Regions from separate parts of the Homo sapiens genome. Here all the other regions are linked to region 1. Evidence: fine-mapped expression QTL. A gene starts in region 1. Each other region holds a variant in brackets. All regions are shown on one strand. Distances are from middle to middle.

Region 1 (8,211 bases):
TTTGGGGAAAGGTTAGTAACCTGGAATTTCTGGGCAAAGGAATTAGACCCTCATCCCCACCAATTTTTTTTTAAACTTCTGGCCCCAAAACCAGTCTCGAATATAACTTCATGAAAACTAACACACTTAAAATTACACATGATGAGCATAATCATTTGAAAGCCTTTTCTGTTTTGATTTGTTTTTTATCCCATACCCATAGTGTCCCAAGAACAGAGTCATGTACAATCTGGTTTCAGCAAAGGACTAAAGAAATTTGCATACCCACAGTTATACTTCATGCAACTTGCCTCCTACTAAATTAACTTGGTAGCAATCTAACTAGTTATTTATTCTGCACTGTAAGTACTGATAATGCCACTAACCCTTGCATTTCACATTTATTACTTCAAATTCCTATAACAATCTGATAAGATTGGTACTACTGTCTGTCACTTTACATTTTAATAGACTAAGTATCAAAATATTTGTCCAAGGTTGCTAGGCTAGTTAGAGATAAAGCCTGGGAATTGGAAACATATACCTGACTCAAAAGCTCTTTGTCCAGGAGTCCTCAATGGCTAGTCCCAGCCCTCTTGCATGAGGCCCAAAATCACACTTGCCCATAACAGAATTAATCATAAATTCAGTCATAGTGAATTCACTTCATTACTTTTTGTAAATAACGAATACTAACAATTCTAAATGAAACTTCATCTACTCTACTTTCTGAATCACCCACAAAGTATTAAACCATAAAAATTAGTCATTTCTATAATTCCTTTGAGTATATCCATTTTCATGTCTATTCTCCTGAGGGAAAAAAAAAAAAAGACCTTACCGATAGCATATGCTTCTCTGCTCCCAACAAACTCTCCTTTTGAGTTTTACTCTATCACTTCAGAACTTCAATTCTATGCCACAGCAGTTCCTGAACTTCAGTGGCAATCATATCAGGATTTTTCTCTTACAGTGGCTTAAGTGACTATGTTACACTGTGTTTTGTACAAGATACAGGTGACTTCTAGATCTCATCTAGCTCTAAAATGCTGCACGAGTGTAGGATTCAAAGCAAATCTAGAAAATATTCTTAGAATATGGAGTCGGATGTTGTTTTCTACGGGCCATACCATTACTACTTATTTTATAAGCCATTTTATCTTAACAATTTTCTGAAGTTTTTTAATGTTTCCATTCCCACTAACAATTTCATGTCTTGTAAACTGTTCAAACCAGTAATATATGTACTATTTTGTATCTTTGCTAATATCACTTAGAAAAAATTAGAACCTGATAAGCTCAAGTTTCATAAATAATGTAAACACAAGATAAAATGTCACAGTGCCAGGCTGAGACAGGAGAATGGCGCGAACCTGGGAGGCGGAGCTTGCAGTGAGCCGAGATCGCACCACTGCACTCCAGCCTGGATGACAGAGCGAGACTCTGTCTCAAAAAAAAAAAAAAAAAAAAGTTACAGTGCCAAGATAACTGCCTTATGAGTTAAAACTTTTAAATGAATTCTGCAGTCTCTAATAAGAGTTCACTCAGTATTAAGCCATCCACATAGTAAATAACAATACTGCTTAATTTTTACAATAATACTGTATGTCCTTGTGAATGTCTGAATAGAAATATATTAACTATCGGCCAGGCGCGGTGGCTCACGCCTGTAATTCCAGCACTTTGGGAAGCCGAGGCGGGAGCATCACGAGGTCAGGAGATCAAGACCATCCTGGTCAACGTAGTTAAACCTCGTCTCTACTAAAAATGCAAAAATTACCCGGGCGTGGTGGCGCGCGCCTGTGACCCAGCTACTCGGGATGCTGAGGCAGGAGAATCGCTTGAAACTGGGAGGCAGAGGCTGCAGTGAGCCGAGATCGCGCCACTGCACTCCAGCCAGGCGACAGAGCAAGACTCCGTCTCAAAAAAAAAAAAAAAGAAAATTAAAGAAAAGAAATACATTAACTATCAATAGCAAGTAGAAACCAGTGTAGGGATTGTAAATGATTATACTGCTACTCTTCAGTATAATCAACACACATTGCAGGCCTCCTCTTTAGGGGTATTCCACAAGTTACCAAACTTCCAATATTTTAACGTGATTTTAGGAAAAACTCCATTTCTTACATTAGGAGACATAAATCTCCATAAGACTGGTTTCTATACAACTGCAATAACGTTGTAAATTATCTAAGTTTTGATTTGGGGGAAGAGGAAAAACCCTAAGAACGAAGTACCATGGTTTTCTGTGTTAAATTCTAGAAAGCTATCAAATGTTTAGGATTAAAGCACTACAGTAGACATTTTTTATCACTATGGTTCTAAGACATTAAAATACTTTTAAAATGCTGGTTGAAAATCATATTCTCAAGCACAGAAAAATTAACTGTATTCCAGAGCATTTCCTTGTTTATCTCCTTACCAAGCCTAAAACTCAACTAATCCTTCTTTCAAACAGCTGGCAAACTCCCTTTTCTGAGAGGAGTGACTCATAAGTTATAGGAAATCCACAAAAACTACGATTTTTTCCCCCAACAAACTTAATAACAGGCACAGAAGGGGCGGGGGGGGGGGGGGGCGGAAGGCCAGAAAGAGAACAGACAGAGAAGAGCATTCAGTCTGTTTACTCCAAGGGCGTCACACCGTGCCAATATCCAGAGCTTCCTAAAAGCAAATGTTCAAACTGCAGTTTCTGGACACACTGTCCTAGAAGTTGAACAGATCCTTCAAGCCCATGCACCAAGAAATTCTGAAAATAAATAACTAGGTACTGCAAACCTACTGCACTCCCATCACAGAAATCTTTCAAATTACAAATCCCCTAATTAGGCGCGGAAAAGAACACCGCACTCTTCCCTAAGAAAACCGACACCTCGTTGACCAAAGAGAAAGGAAAGCAAGTTCATCTCCAACATCCAAACCACAAAGCCAGGTTTCTACTAAATAAAGTCCTCAAATACACTCTAATCTGAGATGAGGTAAGGAAGGCTGTGTAATGGTTCTCCTTGCCTGTTGGGAGGGGCAAAGGTTGGCATTCTAGGACAGCAGCTACTCTGCCACATGGGCCTGGTCCTCGGTAATTCCAAGCGTCCCTTCTGCCTCTCCCTTCCCAGAGCAGATGCTTCACCAGCTCCAAAATCCGCCCGACGTTCTTGCCGCCTGGAGGCCCCCACGTTCCCCTCCAGGCTTGGCCTCCCACGCTCGCCCTCGTTCCTGCGACTCTCGGTCCCCGTCGACACCAAAGGAGGAGGCCGCCAAGGCATCCCCGCTGCAAGCCCGCTACCCGCCGACTCACCTGGTCCCCCCTACGTTCAGTTGGACGATCTCGCCGCTGCCGGCCGCCGCCGCGGGGAAGCTGCCGCAGTGCCCTCCCGCCATCTCCGGCGGCTCCGGACGCGCTCGCCGCCCTCCTTCCCCAGCCGGGACCGCCGAGCCCGGGGCTGTAGCCCGAGGCAGCGGCGACGGCTGCAGGGCCAGCGGGGCGGCGGCGGCCGGAGGGCGGGGGGTGCACGGGGCTTCCCCCACCTTCCCGGCGGCCGGGCGGGGCTCGCTAGCTTCTGCCCCTTCCCGGGTCAATCCTGCGGTGCACAAGGGCGGCCCGGCCTCCACCTTTCGCGGCCTCCAGGCCGCCGGGCCGCCCGGGCCTCTTCTCCGTGCTCCGCTGCCACCGACGCCGCCGCAGCCTGCCTGGGAGGAGGGGTCACCGTTCGGGACAAAATACCGCAGCGCTCACGCTTCGCCCGCCACTGCCGCCTAGAATGAGGAGGAGGAGGAGGAAGGAAAGGTCAGGGAGGAGCTTCCCAACGCCGCGGGGCTGGCGCGTAGGGAGGCTAGGGGAATGTGCTCCTGGCCAGCCGCCTGCCCACGCGGGATTCCATTTCGTTCCTCCTCCCCACGCGATCCCAGCCCCTTTCCCTTTTACATTTCAGATTTTCTAAAACGAGGAAGCTGATTCGCAGATTGAGGGCAGATCTGGGCAAACGATCTACGGATCTTTATGACCCACTTTGTCAACATGGATTGGGAAAGGAAAAACTAATCCTAGAGGTAGTAAAAGTTGATGCCTAAATGTAGACAGTGCAAATGCAGGGAACATTTGGAGATTTTAAAACCTTACAGCGTTTACCCCAGAAAACTGCTTACTTTACCCTCTTCAATTTAATCCCCAATCTCCCAAGCAGTTTTTTTGTTTTGTTTTTTGCTTTTGTTTGTTAAGCAGGAAGGAAACCAAAGGACAAAAACCCCTAGACTGTGTAATGCCCAGCAACCTATTTCTGGAATATAGTAAGCACTCAACTAATGTTAGACACACGCAGAAAACACACAATTTTATGCGCTTGTTTATTTATTTGTTTTTGCTTTAAACGGTATCTATTCAAACCCAAAACCTTAGTGGCTATTAAAATATTTTTTAAATCGGAATACTATAATACTTGATGCCCTGCTAACAAAGACTAACAAAGATAGTGCGTTATGTTTCAGAGGTCATTAGTTTGTGGTACTAAATTCTTAACATGAATTGTTTTGTCATAGTTGTATCATAATAATTCAAACTGATAATGTATCTGATGTTAAGTTTTTATTGTCATTGTCATAATTTTTACCAAAAAAATAAAAAATAGCCTCTGGCAAGCATACTAATGTTGTGATATGCTCTATCTAGATTCGACTTGAAAGATGTTAATAGTACATATGGATGTAAGATAAGTATTATTTCTCCCAGTTGATGATAAGCTTAATAATAGCTAATTTGTGTTTATCATATACCCGGTGGTTTAGATATTTTGTCATCTTTCTTCGTCACAACTAATGTTATAATTATTTTTAAAAAAGGAAATTTGGGAATGAAAATGATCAAAAAAACTTGCTCAAAATTACATAGGTAGCAAGTGGGATGGCAGGAATTTCAAGGCAAGCAGCTTGAATTCAAGGCCACTGTTCACCATCCTTACCACTGCATTGTACCTCATTATCTTCACTTTAGACAGGGAAGATGAGTAACAGTTCAGATTAAAGCAGCAGCAACTAGGAATCTAAACCAGGGTGTCCAATCTTTTGGCTTTCCTGGGCCACATTGGAAGATGAATTGTCTTTGGCCACACATAAAATACACTAACACTAACGATAACTGATGAGCTGAAAAAAAGAAAGAAAGAAAGAAAGAAAGTTTATGAATTTGTGTTGGGCCACATTCAAAGCTTTCCTGGGCTGCATGCGACCCATGGGGCTGCAGGTTGGACAAGCTTGCTTTAAACAATGTTAACTGCCTTTGCCCTAACACATAATATCTGGTTCTATCAGGATCTGAAACTTTGCTTTAAAATTTGCAGCGAAGATTTAAGTGGTAAAAGGGCCATTTAATTTTCCTTAGGTCCAAACCTTGGAAGAATATGAAAGAATAGTTGCTAACAGCCTTTGAATCCAAGAGGCAAGTTGGAGTTAGAATAAGGCCTTATAAATTTAAAAATATATATATTTGTGAAAGGCTTCTTATTTTTCCTGAAATAAATGAAACCGTGTTCATTTTATTATACTGTACTTAAAAATTAGGAGAACATCTCTTCAAGAGAAGGAAAAGTTCTCAGTATTTTATAAGACAAATGGTCATGACTTCTTGATATGTCCAGAACAATATAGAGATATCTGAGGCATTTCTTGCTCATAAAACTTAAAGTTAGGGTGTGACTTAATTTTTAAGAATAAATTGGAACACCATTAACAAAAACAAATAGCAGAATGAGAAAAGATATTTGCAACATATATCAAATGATTGAAAATATATAATATCTGATCATATATGTATATATTATTCTACAAATAAATTGAGAAAACAAGTAATGAAAAATATGGAAAGAATATCAACAGCCAATTGATAAAAACACTAAAATGCTTATTAAAACAACAGAAAGCTGGGTGTAGTGGCTCACACCTGTAATCTCAGCACTTCGGGAGGCCGAAGTGGGTGGATCACGAGGTCAGGGGTTCGCGACCAGCCTGGCCAATATGGTGAAACCCCGTCTCTGCTAAAAATACAAAAATTAGCCAGGCGTGGTGGTGCGCGCCTGTAGTCCCAGCTACTGGGGAGGCTGAGGCAGGAGAATCGCTTGAATCTGGGAGGCAGAGGTTGCAGTGAGCTGAGATCGCACCACTGCACTCCAGCTGGGACGACAGAACGAGACTCCATCTCAAAATAAATACATAAATACATAAATAAATGAATAAAACAAAAAATGTATTTTTACTCATGAGATTAGCAAAAATTAAGAGAGGTTTGATAAAATTCAAGGACAGTGAGAGTGTGAAATGATCATACTCATGCATTGCTGATTAAATTATGAATGGGTACAGAGTTTCTGGAGGGCACCTCAAGAATATCAGCATTTTAAATGTAAATACCCTAGACCCAGCACTTTTCTTCTAAAAATATATCCTATACACATTTTGCTCAATTGGCAAAGGTACATGCAAAGAAGTAAGTGCATATTCATGGTAGTAGTGTTATAATAGCAAAAACATGGAATATTCAACAACAAGGGAATAATTTTTAAAATTATGTTGGAAGCTATTACTATTTTGGGGGCAAATTCATGTGAACTGACCAGAAATGATCTCCAAGTATATGATTTAGTGGGGAAAATAATCAGATTACAGAATAATACATTATGAGTACAATCTCATTCATTTAAATAATGGAAAAACTAAAATCATGTGTATATCCACTTATATTTCTATATAAAAATACATATTAAACTACGAAGAAACATAACCTCTAGACAGATCATTAGAATCAGTGAGGAGAAGGTAGCAGTGGTGAATGGACAAAACCTTTTACCCCTATGGTCTTTCATATTGTTTAACTGTTTACAGTGAGTTTTCTTTCATGTACTACCTGTATGTATGTATGAATGTGTAAATAAATAGAGTAGATACATTCAAGGTTGTCCCCATGACAGCTTTTTAAAGTTTATGTTATTTTAATATTTAGGCAATACAAAGTAAATAAAACATTATTTAAATAATATTACCTTCTTTAGTGACTATATTGAATTTGTGATGTCTACTCGACCAGTCCTTGTCAAACTATCTCAGGTAAGAACTAGTTCAATTTCCAATTTATGGGGTGATTTAGTCAGGACTCTCTAGAGGGACAGAACTAATGGAATATATATATGTTTTATAATATATGTATTTATAAATATATATTATATATATGGAATATATATATGTATATTCCATTAGTTCTGTGATGGGTAAACTCCCCTTTATATATATATAGCTCGGGCGGGCACTGTGGCTCACACCTATAATCCCAGCACTTGGGATGCCAAAGTGTGCGGATCACCTGAGGTCAGGAGTTCGAGACCAGCCTAGCCACATGGTGAAACCTTGTCTCTACTAAAAACACAAAAATTAGCCAGGCGTGATGGCACGCTCCTGTAATCCCAAGTACTCGGGAGGCTGAGGCAGGAGAATCACTTGAGCCTGGGAGATGGAGGTTGCAGTGAGCTGGGATTGCAGCACTGCACTCCAGCCTGGGTGACAAGGCAAGAGTCCATCTCAGAAAAAAAAAAAAAAGTTTCCAACCTCTTAGTCTCATTTTTGTGCTTATTTAATTGCAGACTATTCACAGTTTGTGGATGGGCATCAATTCATGAACCACACTTAAGTGGCCACACTTAAAGTAGTGTTTATTATCACTTAAGTAGCACACTTAAAGTAGCATTTACTTGAAGTGTGGTTATACTAAAAGTAGTACACTAAAAGTAGTAACCACACTTAAAGTAGCGTTGTATTAGATATCCAAGTAAGATGTTGAGTAAGCTGTTGTATAAAGGACCTAGAAGTTTCAGAAAGAGAACTAAGCTAAAAATTCTCTTATTTTTACTGAAATAAAACTTTGGGAATGAGTAGTATATAGATGGCTGTTAGAGCCATGAGACTGCCTAAAATCATAAGGAGGTGAGTGTAGAATGAGACAAAAATAGAAATCAGAATGGAGCCCTTGACTATCCAATATTAAGAGACTGGGGAGGAGTTCCAGTGAAGGAAACTAGAAAGGAGTTTCAGCCAGATGGGAGGAAAACCAAGGGAGCATGGGGTCCTATGAGATCACAGGACAAGTAAGATAAGAACTAAGAATTGACTTTGGATTTAGTGACATGAAGAAAAATAGTGTGGTGGAAGTAAGGGCAGTTCTAGTGCAGAAGTGGGAGAAAAAGCATAATTGGTGGG
Region 2 (8,211 bases), 68 kb after region 1:
AAAAAAATAACCTAAATGATGTGGATTTGGGCACCAATCTGGGCAAGGTAGATTTGTGGTTACAACTCACTAGTGATAACTTCTCTCCATCTGCTCCCCAACCCCTGCTCTGTTGAGTGCCAGGATAACTCTCCTTGCAGTTCACTGGAGGTGAGGTGTAGATCAGGTTTATCTGCACCTTCCTAGTGTAGCCCTTAGGCTACCAGCTTTAAAGGGGTAGATCTCCTATCAAATTTTCTACCTCAATTGGGCATTACTTCTTGTGAAGCTATCAAAAGCCAGCTGTCACAGCCAAAGCTCAAATTCCTCTGGATTGGTAAAAACTTTGACAACAAAAGCAGCTTCAGTTCTCTGAATTCCTTTCTGGTTTCTGCTTTCATTTATATTTTCAACTTTAATTGTTTAGCATCTTGTTAGCTTTTTAATACTCTTAAGATTTTTAAAGTATCCATCTTTTATAATATTTTAAAGTTTTTTTCCAAGCAGAATTATTGGTCCAGAAACTTAGCCCTCAATATTCCTTTACTGCCTATGCTTTTTCTGTATTTAAATGCACAATCAGCATCTCAAATTTAACATTTCAAAACATGCTTTAGACTCTTGGCCCCAAGGCCAAATGTGGTCCTCCTCTACAACTTCCCATCTCAGTAAAACCAGCTCCATTCTGAAGAATTTCAGGTAAGGCTCTTGGCTTCATCCTTGAATCTCTCATTATCTTACACTCCATATCTAATCCAGGAGCAGGTCTTGTCAGCCATATTCTCAAAGTAGACCCAGAATGTGACTAACTGTCACCAGCTCTGCTACCACTACTCTGATCACATTATGGTTACATTTTACTGAATTTAACATAGAAGCCTCTTATTTGGTTCTGCTGCTTCTTCCCTCTCCCAACCACTCCATTCTCTAAGAATCAGCCAGAGTGAGGATCCTTTATGGATTTCATTACTCCTGTTACTCCTCTGTCCTAAAATTCCCTCTCTACAGACTACTCAGCTTACTTAGATTAAAGTTCGAGGCTCTTACAGAGCATGCCAGGCTTCCACCATCTACCTGCCCACTAACCCAGAGGACTTGTCTGATCTTGTAAACTACCACTTCCTCCACCCACCCCCAAACTCTTCTCTGGCTACACAAGCCTCCTTGCTGCCCCTCCAATGTGCTTCCACCTCAGGGATTTTATACTTTGTAGCATAGGATCACATTGGGAATAGGGTCTTTGGAGGTGTAATTGATTAACAATCTTGAGTAGAAGTCATCCTGGATTTTGAGTGGGCCCTAAATTCTATGAGTGTATCCTTATGAGACAAGGAAAGGAAACAGAGAGACACTAGAAAAAAGAAAACCATGCGAAGATAGAGGCAGAAATAGGGGCTATGCTTCCAAGAGTCACTAGAAGCCAGAAGAGGCAAGGAAGAATTTTCCCCTACAGACTTCAGAGAGGGCATGGCTCTGCTGACACCTTAATTTTGAACTTCTTGCCTCCCAAACTGTGAGAGAATAAATACCTATTATTTTAAGCCAGTGAGTTTATGGCACTTTGTTGTGGCAGCCCTAGGAAACTAATACTTCCTGTTTCTTCTGCTTGGAACACTCTTTCCCTACGTGCCCCTACTTGGCTTACTCTTGATTTCTTCAGGTCTCTGCTCAAATACCATTTTAGCGGAATGGCATGTATGACTACGTTAAATAAACAGCACCCTTTTCAGTCACTGTCCGTCCCTTACTCTGCTTTATTTTTTTAATGAAACATATTACCACTTGTTGTATTATCTTTATTCTGTTCACCACCTGTTCATTTTCTGTCTCTTTCCACTAGAATGTAGGAGCACAAAAACAGAAATTTGTCTTTCTTGTGCACTGCTCCATCAGCAGCACTTAGAACAGAATCTGGTACCTTATAGACCTTTGGTGAATACCTTTGCTATGTATGAATGTGCAGTATGGCTTACTTGTACAAAATTATTGGTGAATAAGCTACCAATAAGTCAAAATATGTTAAAATATAAAATACCAAGTCCCAAATATTTAAAATATGTTTAAAATACCTATACCAAACAAAACACAAAATACCAAAATAAGTTAAAATTGCGCATTTGAAGTGTTTTATCATATGATAAAAAGAACACGGGCTTTGGAGTGAGAAACACCCAACTTGTAACATCAGCTCTTTATTTTATGACCCTGTGATCTTGAGTAAAGCACTTAACCTTACTGAGTCCAAAATTTGTAAGATAATCTTTACCATGTAGAGTTGCTGTGGACTATAAATGAGAAAATTATGTGTAAAATACCTAGCCCTGTGCTTTTCATACAGGAGAAGCTTATTGAATGTTCTTTGAGAACTATTATATGAAAATAACAAAACCAACCAAAAACAAAAACCATGACAATAATGTCATGGACATACATTTTGCGTATGTCATACACACACCCACTAGATGTGTGTGTCTGTATATATATGGGTATGTGTATGTACACAGATATTCATATATAGGTATGTATATATTTGTGTATATACATATATGTGTGTAGACATATATAGGTATGTATATGTGCTCACATATACCTATATATGTATAGAATTTTGTGTATGGCCTATCTATCTAGAGAGATTGAGACTAGATTAGTTAGGAAGGATATTGACTTTACAATGTACCTTGACAATTACACCTTTGGCCCACATTGAAATGTGTTTCTTTGTTTACTCAATGATAAGAACAAAATCACTGTCTCATGAAACACATATCTTAAAGTTCCTACCTTTAATTTTGTGACCTCTACATGTCACATAATTAAATCGATGTTACAGATTAAAGAGAGATTTCCTTCTGAAATGTAGTGTGCTAATATAATCACAATAAACAAGTTCTGGCTTGGAATGCAAGTCATATGGTGAAATAGGAACAGAAATGGAGTGGAAATCAACTTCGTATTTGAATTTGATGAGTGATTTTAAGTAAAAACTTCTCTGTATTTTGGTACCCACATCTCTAAAATTAGAAGACTATTCTAGCTTCATGGAACTTTTGTTCACCCAAAGAATATATTTTTATAACCTGCTTCTTCTTTTGTGAAATGAAAGCAACACACACTATTTTTGTGAAAATTAAAGTACCTCACTTGAAAAACTCTAAAACTGTGTTTGGCACGTGATAGGTACCAAAATAATCCTTGTCGAGTTTGATCTGACACAAAAATTCCTTCGTTTCTGGAATCCAAATTCATCTTCAAACTTTTAGTCTCACTGAGATCTTTTTTTTTTCTCTGAAAATGTGAAAGCTGATAAGAGGTCTGTCCATGACTACCTTCCTCAATGACATATTACTTATCAACTTCTGCATTAAAGAGGTATATTGAACCACTAATCTTAAGTAAATAAATTGCTTTATTTACTCTTTGGTAGAAGTCTCATAGTAGGGGTACCAACTAAGCCAAATAATTTGAAGATAAACAAAACTATTCAAAGAAAATATAACAGCACGGCATAAATCTATACAACTATAGACCCTTTCTCCAGGAGTGGGACTTCTAGGGGATTTAG[C/T]GGGGTGATGCCTTGAAAAACTATAAATAAATCGTCTTTACTCCCTACTGAAATTCAACCACTGACAGAATAAAGAGCTTTGAGCAAAATCGGTTTACGAAATTCTCAGTGGAATAATTTGCTTCTTTTGTGTCCTGGGCACTGTCCTAAGCTTAATAGAGACATACATGGAATTTAATATCTATGTTTCCACTCCCTCCAGTATGCCTCTTAGGGTCTCACCCTCATGCAAAGCTGCTTATCAACATATTTTCTAAAGATACCACTGGGCTTTCTTCAAAGAATTCCAAAATGAATTGCTAAGAGAAGAATGTTTTTGACTCTAGTGTAAGCCAAAGGGTTTTTGGAGTCTACTGCTTTTGTGGCACATTGATTAAAGGAAACATAAGCAGGATCAGCACTAGGGCAAGGCTTACATTTATTTCATTACTGGTATGTATTATAAATCTGAATTATTTTTTGCCATAGAACAGGTTCTAGATAAATTTATATATGGTATAGAGGAGACAATAAGTATTTCATAAATAAGTCAATTAAAAATAATTTGTCAGTTGGAGGTATCATACCCTCTTTCCTCTTCCCATTCAGGCTCCCGACATCTCAGTCTATTGTGTTCTGCTCTTGACCTCACACTTCATGCTTTGCTCTCTTTTCATCAAGGTTTGTCATCACCTTGCTTCTCATCATTGACCCCACTAAAACTTCCAAATCCAGTATGATGTTACCCCTGGACCTGTAATACAAATTAATTAGTCAAATAAACTCCCCTTTATGAAATTGCAAATGATATTTTAGCTATCTGATCACTCCACCTCCACTCTTTCCTGCTCAGTCCAATAATAACTAAATCTGTAAGACCATACAAGCTGGTGGGGTGATGTTTTGTGGTATACAAGTTTTGTAGTCCCTTCCAAATCTCATTTACTTCACTTTCAAATAAGGTTAACGAAGTTCACTACCTTAACAGGGTTCTGGCAGAAAAATATTGTAATACTAGAGGTCTGAGTACTAATATGAATGTTTTGCTTGCTCTAACCTGTATTAGTAATGGAACGGCTTATTACACATTAAGCCTCCTCTGAAACCCTTTTCTAGCACCTTAAGGAAATAATCAATATGGTCTGATTAAAAATGGTTGGTTTTTCCTCTGCATACAACTTGGGTTTGTGAATGATGATTTTTAGTTTTAGTTTTTGTGTTTTTCAAAACATATATATAGTGCTTACTATCTGTCAGTCTCTGCTCTAAATATTTAGTAACTTGAAATGCAAAGCAATCCTATCGGATAGACACTGTTACTCTGCTCATTTTACAGACATGGAAATAGAAGCTTTATTGATGTGCATAAAAAGTACGTAATTTGTTTAAGGTCATTGGGTAGTAAGCGGTATAGCTGGGCTGTAAATCCAGGGAACATGTCTCTAAAGTCCATACTCTTAATATTGTGCTCTCCTGCTCTTAGAAACAAGAGAAGATTCTATCCTCCTCAAGAGGATGCCTGGCTAAAAAAAGCTGATCTCATGGAGGTAGAGAGTAGAACGATTGATACCAGGGGCTGAGAAACGTTTGTGGTTAGAGGCAGGAGGGATGAAGAAAGGTTGGTTAGTGAGCACAAACATACAGTTAGAGAGAAGGAGTAAGTTCTAATATTTGATAACAGAGTAAGGTGACTATAGCTAACAACATCGTATTGTATATTTCAAAGTAGCTAAAAGAGAGGACTTGACATCTTCCCAAAAGATAGAAATGAAAACACTGGAGGTGATAGGCACTCTGGCCTGATCATTACACATTCTATGCATGCAATAAAATACCACATGTACCCCATACATATGTACAAATATTATTCGTTAATGAAAACATAATTCTGGGCAATTTAAACAGAAAAGGAATTTGCTTAAGGGACGTTGGCTAGGTGAAAGAACCAACAAGAATTTTGAAGGATTGAACATGGAAATGGGGCAGGAAGAAAAGAGACCAAGCATCAAAATCATACTACAGAATAATGTGGTGAAGTCCCTGCAGCTGCTTCTACTGCTGCTGGACCTGGGATTAAACAGCTTTCATTGTTGTTACTACTGGGACGGAATCGTCATTGTTGCCATGGACACCTGCTGCTGCCTCTGCTGCTGCTACTACTGACTACACGGGGTCTCCACTGTTCTTGCTTCTTAAGATTCCAAGTTTGGGCCAGCCGTGGTGGCTCATGGCTGTAATCCCAGCACTTTGGGAGGCCGAGGCAGGTCAATCACCTGAGGTCAGGCGTTTGAGACCAGCCTGGCCAACATGGTGAAACCATGTCTCTACTAAAAATACAAAAATTAGCCTGGTGTGGTGGCGGGTGCCTGTAATCCTAGCTACTCGGGAGGCAGAGGCACGAGAATTGCTTGAACCCGGGAGACGGAGGTTGCAGTGAGCCGAGATCGTGCCACTGCACTCCAGCCTGGGCAACAGAGCGAGACTTTGTCTCAAAAAAAAAAAAAAAAAAAAAAATTCCAAGTTCGAAGCAGTGCATCTAATTGGTCGGTCATCCTAGGTCACATGCCCATCACATGTCACATTCTCTTTTCACAGGAGGCTGGAAAGCCAATATCTTGTCTTCTAGTATTGCAGAATAAAAAATAGGAGCCCCGATGTTTGTAAAATTTGACATACTTGTTTGAGACACACTTATTTGGGACGTACACTAACAAATCATTTGCTGTTTCTGTACAATTCAACTTTAACTTGGTACCCTGTATTTTTATTTGTTACACCCGGGAACCCTAGGATCTTCATAATTTCTATATCCAGGGAAAAACAAAGATTCATATGATGGAAAGTTCTCAAAACATAAGAATACGTTCTTTATCGATCAAGGAACAAAACGACTAATATTCACTACACACACTTCTGACATTTTTATATATAGTCACAGCATGACAACTGTGTGGAAGGGGAGAAGTGCTCTCTGGCATTCAATCAACCCTCAGCCTTTTAACCAGTGTTTTTTCTCCCAAAGATGTGTTACTACCATTTACTTTTTCTACTAGTTTGAGGTGATATTTTGAGTATATGCTTTTATTTTTAAAATGGATTCACCTTTTATTTCTCACATAAACTTCATTTCTCAATAATAAATGGAGCTTTCATTCCTAATCCTGAGAAAGAAGTTTCATTGTTGTAGCCTATTCAACCTATATACAAATATATAAACACATTCAGAGAACTTGTAAATGCAACATAAATAAATCAACAAATCTGTGTTGTAAAAGGCTCACTATGTGACATTCACTGCCTGCATTTTATTGTCTCAGCTTTACCTTCTGGCTAAAAGTATTTATGAAGCTCTCTGATCCTTCTACCAAAAAAGGTAATTTTAAAGCGCACAAAATGTTAGTGGCTTAGAACAAAACTTACTTCATAATTCTTCTTAAAGAAAGTATTTCTGATAAATTCACCCTAGAGAAAGGGAAAATAAAATAATTGGCAACATTTTTATTTTGTTTATAATATTCGTATAAATTTCTAGTTTATATATCATGCATATTCAATTTTAAGCCTTCAAGAATAAGAGTTGGAAAAAAAAGCTGTATTCTGGCAGTCAAATAGATCCTTGGCAAAAGCTGCAAATGGAAAGAGAAATTAATTTAATTTTTTCATTATAGTGCTACCATAATCATTTAGACTTCCTGTACTGATTTAATATGAATATATAGATTATATCAATATTAATTCATTCCATAATTATTGCTGGAAGAATACCAATAACTACTACCAGATTTGATAAATAGTGCAAAAAAATCATTTGGATTTTAGCAGGAGAAAATGGCCTCTTAAAATTTCTTTGTTTTTTTAAGCCTAAAAGTAATAATAACTTATTAGAGAATTCATGTATGCAAACTTTGACTTTTTGGTTATAGACAGAATTTTAAATTTTTGTCCTTATTTATTTGCCCAAAGCAAGAAAGTAGATTAGTTTTCTACAAAGAGTGATTGAATGGGAAGGAGAGCGGTGGGCTGCCATATGATTATTCTAGTTCATTTCTAAGGGCGTTGAGATTGTAAGAAAGATTCAGAAAATACTTTGGACTGCAGAATAAGCATAAATTCAGATTCTCCATTATTTGGTTTATGCTATCATATTTCTCTGAATCGTACATATACCTTATACCTTATAACCTCTATGTCAGTGTTTCATTTCACTTTTTTACTCATAGAAACAATCACTAGCTAATGACAGTTCAAGTCACATTACCTTGAAAATTGACTCTTCATGTGATTTAAATTACAGTTTGAAAATAAGGCAATTATTTACATATCCTTCTAATTAGTTCTACTTTATTGTTTTGTTTTATAGTAAAGAAAAATATGTAATTATTAAAATTCCATGAAATACAGAACATTTATATGAAAACATAACAGTCCTTTTTTTACAGCCTCCAATAACCAATCCTGAGGGAACCACTGATAATACTTTGGTATGTGTCCTTGTAGAATCCTCTTTTTGGATGCAGAAATAACATGTAATAGTAGAATTTTAAACATTTATCAAAGAAATGGGATTCTACTACATAGATGATTTCTAGCTTTTTAAAATTTAAAAATATTAAATCATAAGTATCTTTTCATATAAGTGCATGCATAGCCACCTTACTATGTTACAGTATTTACATAATTTTACAAAA
Region 3 (8,211 bases), 24 kb before region 1:
CTAAATTCTGGAAATAAGCAAAAAGGAGAAAAAAGCAGCAAGAAGTCACATGATACTAAAAACAAACATTCGGGCCTTTTACTCAGAGCTTATTTTTAAACCCCATGTGTTCCAGCACTGCAATCTCCATTTAATTAATTCAAAAGACACTATATCAGGCTTTAGGATTAAAAAACACGAGAAGACAAGACATTACTAAGAACTTACACTTTAGTAGAGAAAAAACTGCAACCAATTATAATTTGATACAATAATAACAGAAGGATGCACAGGGTATAATAGTATCTATGGGGTAAAAAGGGTATGGAAAGGGGGTTGAAAATATATCTTAGAAAAGAAGCCATCTGAGTTGGAGTTTTTAAAGGTTAATAGGAGTCCATCAAATTGGGAGACTGAATATGGGCAAGCTCAGGGAATCAGAGCAAACAGAAGAGTAAGTGTAGGTGAGAGAGGTTGTAAGCAGCACCTATCACACATCAGTAGCAAAAGACCCAGCAATGCCTAAGCAGAGAATTCTAGGCTCACCTTGGTGCGGCATATTGGCCTTATACACTTGTCTCTCTTTAGCAGAGTACTGCACTAGGAGTCAGGAGAACCAGGGTTGGGATCCTGGCTCTCAGAGTACCTTTGTTTGCCACTTTTTTGGTTCTTATCTCAACTACGAAATAGGGTCTAAGCTAAATGTTTCAATGATCACTTGAGCTTAAAAATGTTATAATCGGCCGGGCATGATGGCTCATGCCTGCAATCCCAGCACTTTGGGAGGCCAGGGCGGGTGGATCACTTGAGGTCAGGAGTTCAAGACCAGCCTGGGCAACACACTGAAACCCCATCTCTACTAAAAATACAAAAATTAGCTGGGTATGGTAGCACACGCCTGTAATCCCAGCTACTGGGGAGGCTGTGGCAGGAGAATTGCTTAAACCCACAGGCAGAGGTTACAGTGAGCCGAGACCATACCACTGCACTCCAGCCTGGGTGACAGAGCAAGACACTGTCTCAAAAAAAAAAAAAAAAAAAAAGTTGTATTCCAATTCTAGCACTTAAATAGCATTATCTTAATCATTTGAAAAACACTTTATGGGAAATATATTTTTATCTAATAATGCTGGGAAATAAGTCTCACCTCTACAATACTGTTTTATGTAGATCTTTGGCTGCTTCAAGTATCAGTTTATTTTTAAAAAGTACCTGTGCCAATACAGACAACTTCGTCAGCATTTAGCTGAGAAAAAAAATGCATGAAACCTTGAAGAACTCATGGGAAAAACAAAGCAACTAAATGCAAATATAACATGCTTTAAAAGCATAAGCCAGAAAGATTACTGATTTCTTTTGAATCTTATACTGGTGCTAGGTATTCTCTTTTTGTTCAGAACTGTACTATACTCAAGACCAGTGACAAACAACACCTTGAAAACTTTTAATCAGTCTTGTAAAAGCAAGGCATCTAGCAAGAAGACGATACATGACAAAAAGAAACCAAAACAAAAAACCTGCTAAGTATTGTTAGAAGTATCTTCTATATAAACATTTTTAATTATATGTATAAAATCCATATTTATACAAGCATGTGCATGAAACACATTATCTCAGCCCAAAAAACTAGAACAAAATAAAGTACAACACACACACACAAAGCTAAGTCCGTTGCCCAGAATTGGTTAAGAAATGAACCTGCCACTTCAAAGCATAAAGTCATTATTTTACGTTGTATACAATTTTAGGGATTCTACATAATAGTACTTTAATGATGATAACAAACAATGTGAACATGTCTTTTTAGAACATGTGAAGCCAACTATATTCAGTATTATGGGCTATGTGAAAGGCAGAAATGAAAACAGGAAAACCAACTAACATCGATTACTCCAGAGGAGGATGAGGTTCTAGGAAATCAACAAAGACACTCTGAATGGTCTCACGAAATTTAAAGTGTCACTCCTGCTTAGGCTAAACAATCCTGAGCACCAGTGACAGGGAAGACAACAGAAGTAATGACCAGTTCCTGTCTTAAGGGGCCCTCTTGGTAAAATATTGCTTATAGCAGAAACCCAGTAACTCTCGTCTTATCTAAGTTATAATGAAGGGAGTTCAGCCTCTGGGAGAGCTTTATCATGGATATACCAGCCCTAACAATTTTCTTTGGATAGTGTTGTCATGTTCTGAAGAATATTTGTTAACAACAAATGGCTCCTTTTACAGGGCATGAACAAATTACTATTGTACCAGCTCATAACATAGCTACCTATCACATTAGCCTTTGAACACCAAGCAAGTAATAAAATTTCTTTCACTTATTGGTATGTTACAAATAGCTACTTGAAAAAGGAAAAAGAAATCACAACTGATTTACCTTCTGTTTAATTACCAGTGTATTATAATTTCAAAATTTTTTATGTTAAATTTTCTTTTCTTAAAGTTGTTTGGGAGGACTTAAGCTGTCGATCACGATAGAATAAATGGCACCCGATTATTCTCCACTTTAAAACAGCAGTAACAACAAAAAAAAAAATGGACAAAATATATGAAACAACTGTTTTTAGGTATTGGACAACAGGCAGCAGAGGACCTGAGAGACAGAAACACACTGACAAGCCCCACATTCCCCCTGGCTTGCTGCATAAGAGTACTTTCTATCACAGCATAGAAAGGTGAGACCTAAGTGATACAGTTTGGTTCTGTGCCCCACCCAAATCTCATCTTGTAGCTCCTGTAGTTCCCAGGTGTTGTGAGAGGAACCCCATGGGAAATGACTGAATCATGGGGACAGGTCTTTCCTTTGTCGTTCTTGTGATAGGGAATGGATTGTCTCACAAGATCTGGTTTTAAAAACAGGAGTTTCTCTGCACAAGCTCTCTTTGCCTGCTGCCATCCACATAAGATGTGACTTGCTCCTCCTTGCCTTCTGCCATGATTGTGAGGCCTCCCCAGCCATGTGGAACTGTAAGTCCAATTAAACCTCTTTCTTTTGTGAATTTCCCAGTTTTGAGTATGTCTTTATCAGCAGTGTGAAAACGGACTAATATACCAAATAAAGACAGATGATTTCCCTGAACTGAGGAGGCGAAGAACTTGAGGCTAGAGTTAGTAGATACAGTACAAGAAGGAAGGGAACTGTGCCAGAGGGGTGGCATAAAAGTTGCATAAGCGTTTCCCTAAGACCTTGGCTAAGGCCTAACTGCACCTGGGCAGGGCAAGAATCCTCAAGGAAAGAAAGGCTGCTGGCCGGGCGCGGTGGCTCACGCCTGTAATCCCAGCACTTCGGAGGCTGAGGCGGGCGGATTACGAGGTCAAGAGATCGAGACTATCTTGGTCAAGATGGTGAAACCTGTCTCTACTAAAAATACAGAAATTAGCTGGGCGTGGTGGCATGTGCCTGTAGTCCCAGCTACTCGAGAGGCTGAGGCAGGAGAATCCCTTGAACCTGGGAGGCGGAGGTTGCAGTCAGCCATGATCACGCCACTGCACTCCAGCCTGGAGACAGAGTGAGATTCTGTCTAAGAAAGAAAGAGAAGAAAGAGAGAAAGAGAGAAGGAAGGAAGGAAGGAAGGAAGGAAGGAAGGAAGGAAGGAAGGAAGGAAGGAAGGAAAGAAGGAAGGAGAGAGAGAGAAAGAAAAGAAAGAAAGGCTGCTTTAGGACTAAGAGGTAACGGGAGATAGCTGCTTTAGGACTAAGGTAACTGGAGATATCAGATATCAGAGGTCATATGTGGGTAGATGGAGTAGTTCCAACTCAATAAAAGTAGAGAGTTCTTGCTGAGCCCCTCTGGCATTCAGTTAAATAAGATTCCAGAAAAGCAACATCTTAAAAATAAGAACTACA[G/C]CCTTGAAAAGGAGCCCTGCCCTAAAATTACAAATAAAGCTAGAAGAGGATACCTACTCCTAACAAAGTACTGAAACAAGCCTAACAGGTTCAAGATCCTTTAGTAATTTAATTGCCTGCCAGAACAAAGCTCATAACTTTTAAAGAAAGGTAACATAATTCATAACCCTACAAAATGTATCACACACAAGTACAGCACATAATCAAAACTCTCTAGACATGTGAAACAGGAAAATGTGACCCAAAATAAAAACATGGTAACCAGATATTGATATTAGCAGACAAATACTTTAACAAATTAAACAGCTGAACATAATGAACAAAAAGACAAGAAATCTTAGCAGAAGAAACAAACTAGAAAATGGAATCAAAAAGTAATACTAGAGCTAAAAAGTCCAACATTTCAGATGAAAATTCACTAGATGAACTTAACTGCAGATTGAATACTGTAGAAGTATAAAAGACATTAAAGGTAGATCAATAAAAGATATCTAAACTGAAGAATGGAGAAAAAAATGAAATAAAAAATCAGGGCTCCCACAACCCCAGGTTAATATAAAGTGATCTAGAAAGCTCAAAAGGAGGAAGAGGGAGCGAGCAAGGGAGAGATGGAGAAAAGAGGAAGGGAGACAGGTACAGGCCTCCCTCAACTGTGTCAACCAAAAATGTCTCTAGACATTTTCAAATATCCTTTGGTGGATAAGATTTCCTTGGTTGTGAAACACAAATCTAGAATATGTAAAAAACATTTACAAATAAGTAACAGGATGACAACCTCATTAAAAAGGGCAAATGATTTACAGAGACACTTCTCAAAAGAAAATATACAAACGGTCATTAAGTACAGGAAACGATGCTTAATATTATTAATCATCAGAAAAATGCAGTTAAAGCCACAATTAAAATCACTGAACCATTAAAATCCACAATAATGGCTCAAATTAAAAAGACTGACAATACAAAGTGTTGATTAGGATGTGGAGAACCTGGGACTCTCACACACTGCAAGTAAAAATGTAAAAAGGTACTTTTGGAAAACAGTTTGGCAGTTTTTCTTAACCTTAAACATACACTTTCCATATGACTAAGAAATTCCACTCCTATATATTTACCTTAAGAAAGTAAATGTCCACAGAAAGACTTCTACTTGAATGTTAACTGCAGCTTTATTCATAATATCTCCAAATTGGAAATAAGCCAAATGTCTATCAACGGGTGAATGGATAAACAAATTCTGCCGTATTATTTCAATGGAATACTACTCAGCAATAAAAAGGAACAGACAACTGATACATGCAACAACATGGATGAATTTCAAAAGCATTATGCTTAATAAAAAGCCAGGCACAAAAGAATAAATACTATATAATTCTACTCATGAAATTCTAGATAAAGGAAACCTAATCTATGGTGACAAAAAGCCTAACTGCATAAACAATGCAGTTTATGTTGGACACCTTCTTTCCTTCTGGGAATCTGGAATCTTCCCTCAACTTTATAGATCTTAATAACTTAACCTTATTGTGCTTTATGTAGCAAAACATTTTTGCATAGTATCTATCGGTTGTAGGTTCACTGAGACTGAATACCCAAGAGTTTAAACAAAAAGAAATTGGCCAGGCACAGCGACTCATGCCTGTAATCCCAGCACTTTGGAAAGCCAAGGTAGCAGGATCACTAAAGCTTAGGAATTCAAGACCTGGGCAACATAGTGAGACCCTATCTATACAGTGATTAAAAAATAATAGCCAGGCGTGGTGGTGCCTGCCTGTAGTTCTAGCTACTAAGGAGGCTGAGGTGGGGGGACTGCTTGAGTGCCTGGGCCCAGGAGGTTGAGGATGCAGTGAGCTAGGATCACATCACTGCACTCCAGCCTGTGTGACAGAGCAAGACCCTGTCTCAGAAAAAAAAGGAAAGAAAAGAAGAAAAAGAAATTAAGTATTTTAAATAAAGATGTAAAAAACTCATTTAATCCAGAAATTGTTTGGTATAGACCTTCAAACTAGAAATGAAAAATCTAATGAAGTATCTCAAAGGTAAGTTACGACATCACAGTGGCTAGAGAAGTATACCCAATTGCTGAGAGACTAATAAAGCCTTGAACAGATGACAATGCTGAATGCCTGCTAGATGAAAAGTCCATGAAGAAATAACATGGTAACTTTTCAATAATACAGTAACTCTTCAATCTAAAGATTTGGCAGAGAGTCAATCTCTTGTCTGTAGAATTGTATTTTTGCCTTGCAAACAGATGAATATATAGATGTGGCTGGACCTGGTATTTTACTTGTATCCAGCTGGTATTAGCTAGACCTGGTGTTTTACTTGTACCCATCTGGTATTAGCTCCAACTGATCATTAAAAATCCTTTATGTGAATGCATAGCTACAAACACAGGAAGTGCTGAAATAGTCAAAGTGTTGAAAACTTATATGAATTTCATGGCTTATTCTAGAACATCTGTGTTGACATTTACACTGATGATGCAAAGCAACGTTTGGTAAAAACAGCAGGTACCTTACTTAGCACAAACCAGGACAGTGGCACTAAACTTTACTAGTGACCATTGCATTCTTCTCTGCCATAGACTTTCAAGAACATAAAAGGCCAAATCAAAGATTTAAAGATTAAATTAAAGATTTGGCCTTTTATGTTCCCGAAAGTCTGTGGCAGAGAATGTAATGGTCTTAGTAACTAAAGAATGTCCTTGATGAAGCAGTAAAAATTTGTACTGATAAAAACTTAATTTCAACTATATATCTTAATATTCTGTATGACTAAGTACTATGGCTATGTCAAGGAAAAGCACCTTCACAAATGCTGGAGCAAAGAGCTACAGGAGCTGCTCTGTTCATTAAGTACCATTTTAATTTGAGATGACTATGGTTATTCAGAATTGGGTGTTTGGCAGAACTATCCTCAAAAAATAAACAAAGTAAGCCTGTTATCTAAAGGAAAACCACTGATGTTATTTGTTGCCAATGATAAAAATTCAACGTTTCAAGTGAAAATCTGCAGTTTGGAAAACTTTTATCTGCCACAGTGAGTGTGACAACTCCCTCACACGTAGTCAGCAGGGATACCAATGAATGCAATTTTTTTTCATATTATACAATGAAAGGTATCAACATTTGGTAGATCTACATAACTCAGCAAACCAACAATTTCCAAATGCCCAACATCTTATAAAAGCATGTATGATAAAAGATCCACTCAAAGTACAAAATAGTCTGATGGATTTTAATTTAACAGAATATGAAAAGTTCACTGATATGATTTTAGAGTTTTGATAAAGAATCAAAGAAGACTATGCACAATTTTCTGAAAAGACTGAAAAAAGTTTTTTCCAACTACATATCTGTGTAAGATCAAGTTTTCTTCATATACTTCAATCAAAACAATGTATCACAGCAGATTGAATGCAGAAATAGATATCACAGTTCAAAAAGAGATTTACAAAACTGTAAACCAATGCCATTCTTCTCACACATTTTTGGAAAATGAGGTTCTCATTAAAAATGTTACTTAAGTTATGCAATGGATTATTATAACTATATTAACATTTATAAAAATTTCCATTTTAATTTCTAATATAGTAAATACTGATAGAAAATAACCTACAGAAAGGCCGGGCATGGTGGCTCACGCCTGTAATTCCAGCACTTTGGGAGGCCGAGGTGGGCGGATCACAAGATCAGGAGATCGAGACCATCCTGGCTAACATGGTGAAACCCATCTCTATTAAAAACACAAAAAAATTAGCTGGACGTGGTGGCATGTGCCTGTAGTCCCAGCTACTTGGGAGGCTGAGGCAGGAGAATTGCTTGAGCCCAGGAGGCAGAGGTTGCAGTGAGCTGAGATCATGCCATTGCACTACAGCCTGGGCGACAGAGCGAGACTCAGTCTCAAAAAAAAAAAAAAGGAAAAAAAAGAAAATAACCTACATTCTTTCAGGTCCTGAGTAACTTTTTAAGAGGATTAAGGGGTTCTGAAACCAAAAAGTTTGGGAATGTCTGGTCTAGAAGCAACAATGAGGAGCAAGAAAGTGACTTACCCCACATTCAGGTTCAGTAGTTTGAGAGGGGTGGAGAGAAAACAGTGAAAACATCCACCACTAAGTGGGATTCAGGAAAAGCAATATTTTCATAGAGCAGCCAGGTTTCACTTAAAGTGGTGAAAAGATGTTCCCCATGTCTTTTCTAAAACATCATTTTTCCTTCATTATCAGATCATTCCTCCCACATTAAATACTGTGACAGCTCTAGCTAACTGACAGTCCAGGTTAATTTTCATATTCAGTGTCAATCTCTTTTATAAACTTCAAAATATTAATATCATCAAATTGCAACATAAACAAGATTCTTCCTACCAATTTCACTTCCACTT

Which allele goes with the higher level. Positions count from the first base shown, and alleles are read on the strand shown. Sizes are in standard deviations (SD) of each study's normalised expression. Not every link is listed here.
As copies of G replace C in region 3, the expression in esophagus mucosa of the gene that starts at base 3,739 in region 1 goes down (small effect, 0.28 SD a copy in GTEx).

What was found. PIP is the estimated chance that this variant, and not a neighbour inherited with it, causes the effect.
Region 2: its variant is fine-mapped to the expression of KCTD3 in whole blood (TOPMed, PIP above 0.99).
Region 3: its variant is fine-mapped to the expression of KCTD3 in esophagus mucosa (GTEx, PIP 0.98).

The regions. Positions count from the first base shown.
Region 1 is chr1:215,562,832-215,571,042 of GRCh38, reverse strand. It overlaps KCTD3 (potassium channel tetramerization domain containing 3), which reads right to left and starts at 3,739. Exons shown (of 18, transcript NM_016121.5): 1 at 3,275-3,739. The coding sequence starts at 3,357. It overlaps LOC124904599 (a long non-coding RNA gene), which reads left to right and starts at 3,686. Exons shown (of 2, transcript XR_922599.2): 1 at 3,686-3,763; 2 at 3,909-4,616. RefSeq lists an enhancer at 2,665-3,525 and a silencer at 3,338-3,607.
Region 2 is chr1:215,495,142-215,503,352 of GRCh38, reverse strand. No RefSeq gene overlaps it. Among named protein-coding and RNA genes, the nearest start is that of KCTD3, 68 kb to the left of the region's middle. The variant C/T (reference allele first, on the strand shown) is at 3,545.
Region 3 is chr1:215,586,669-215,594,879 of GRCh38, reverse strand. It overlaps KCTD3 (potassium channel tetramerization domain containing 3), which reads right to left. Exons shown (of 18, transcript NM_016121.5): 9 at 8,195-8,211. Among named protein-coding and RNA genes, the nearest start is that of KCTD3, 23 kb to the right of the region's middle. The variant G/C (reference allele first, on the strand shown) is at 3,826.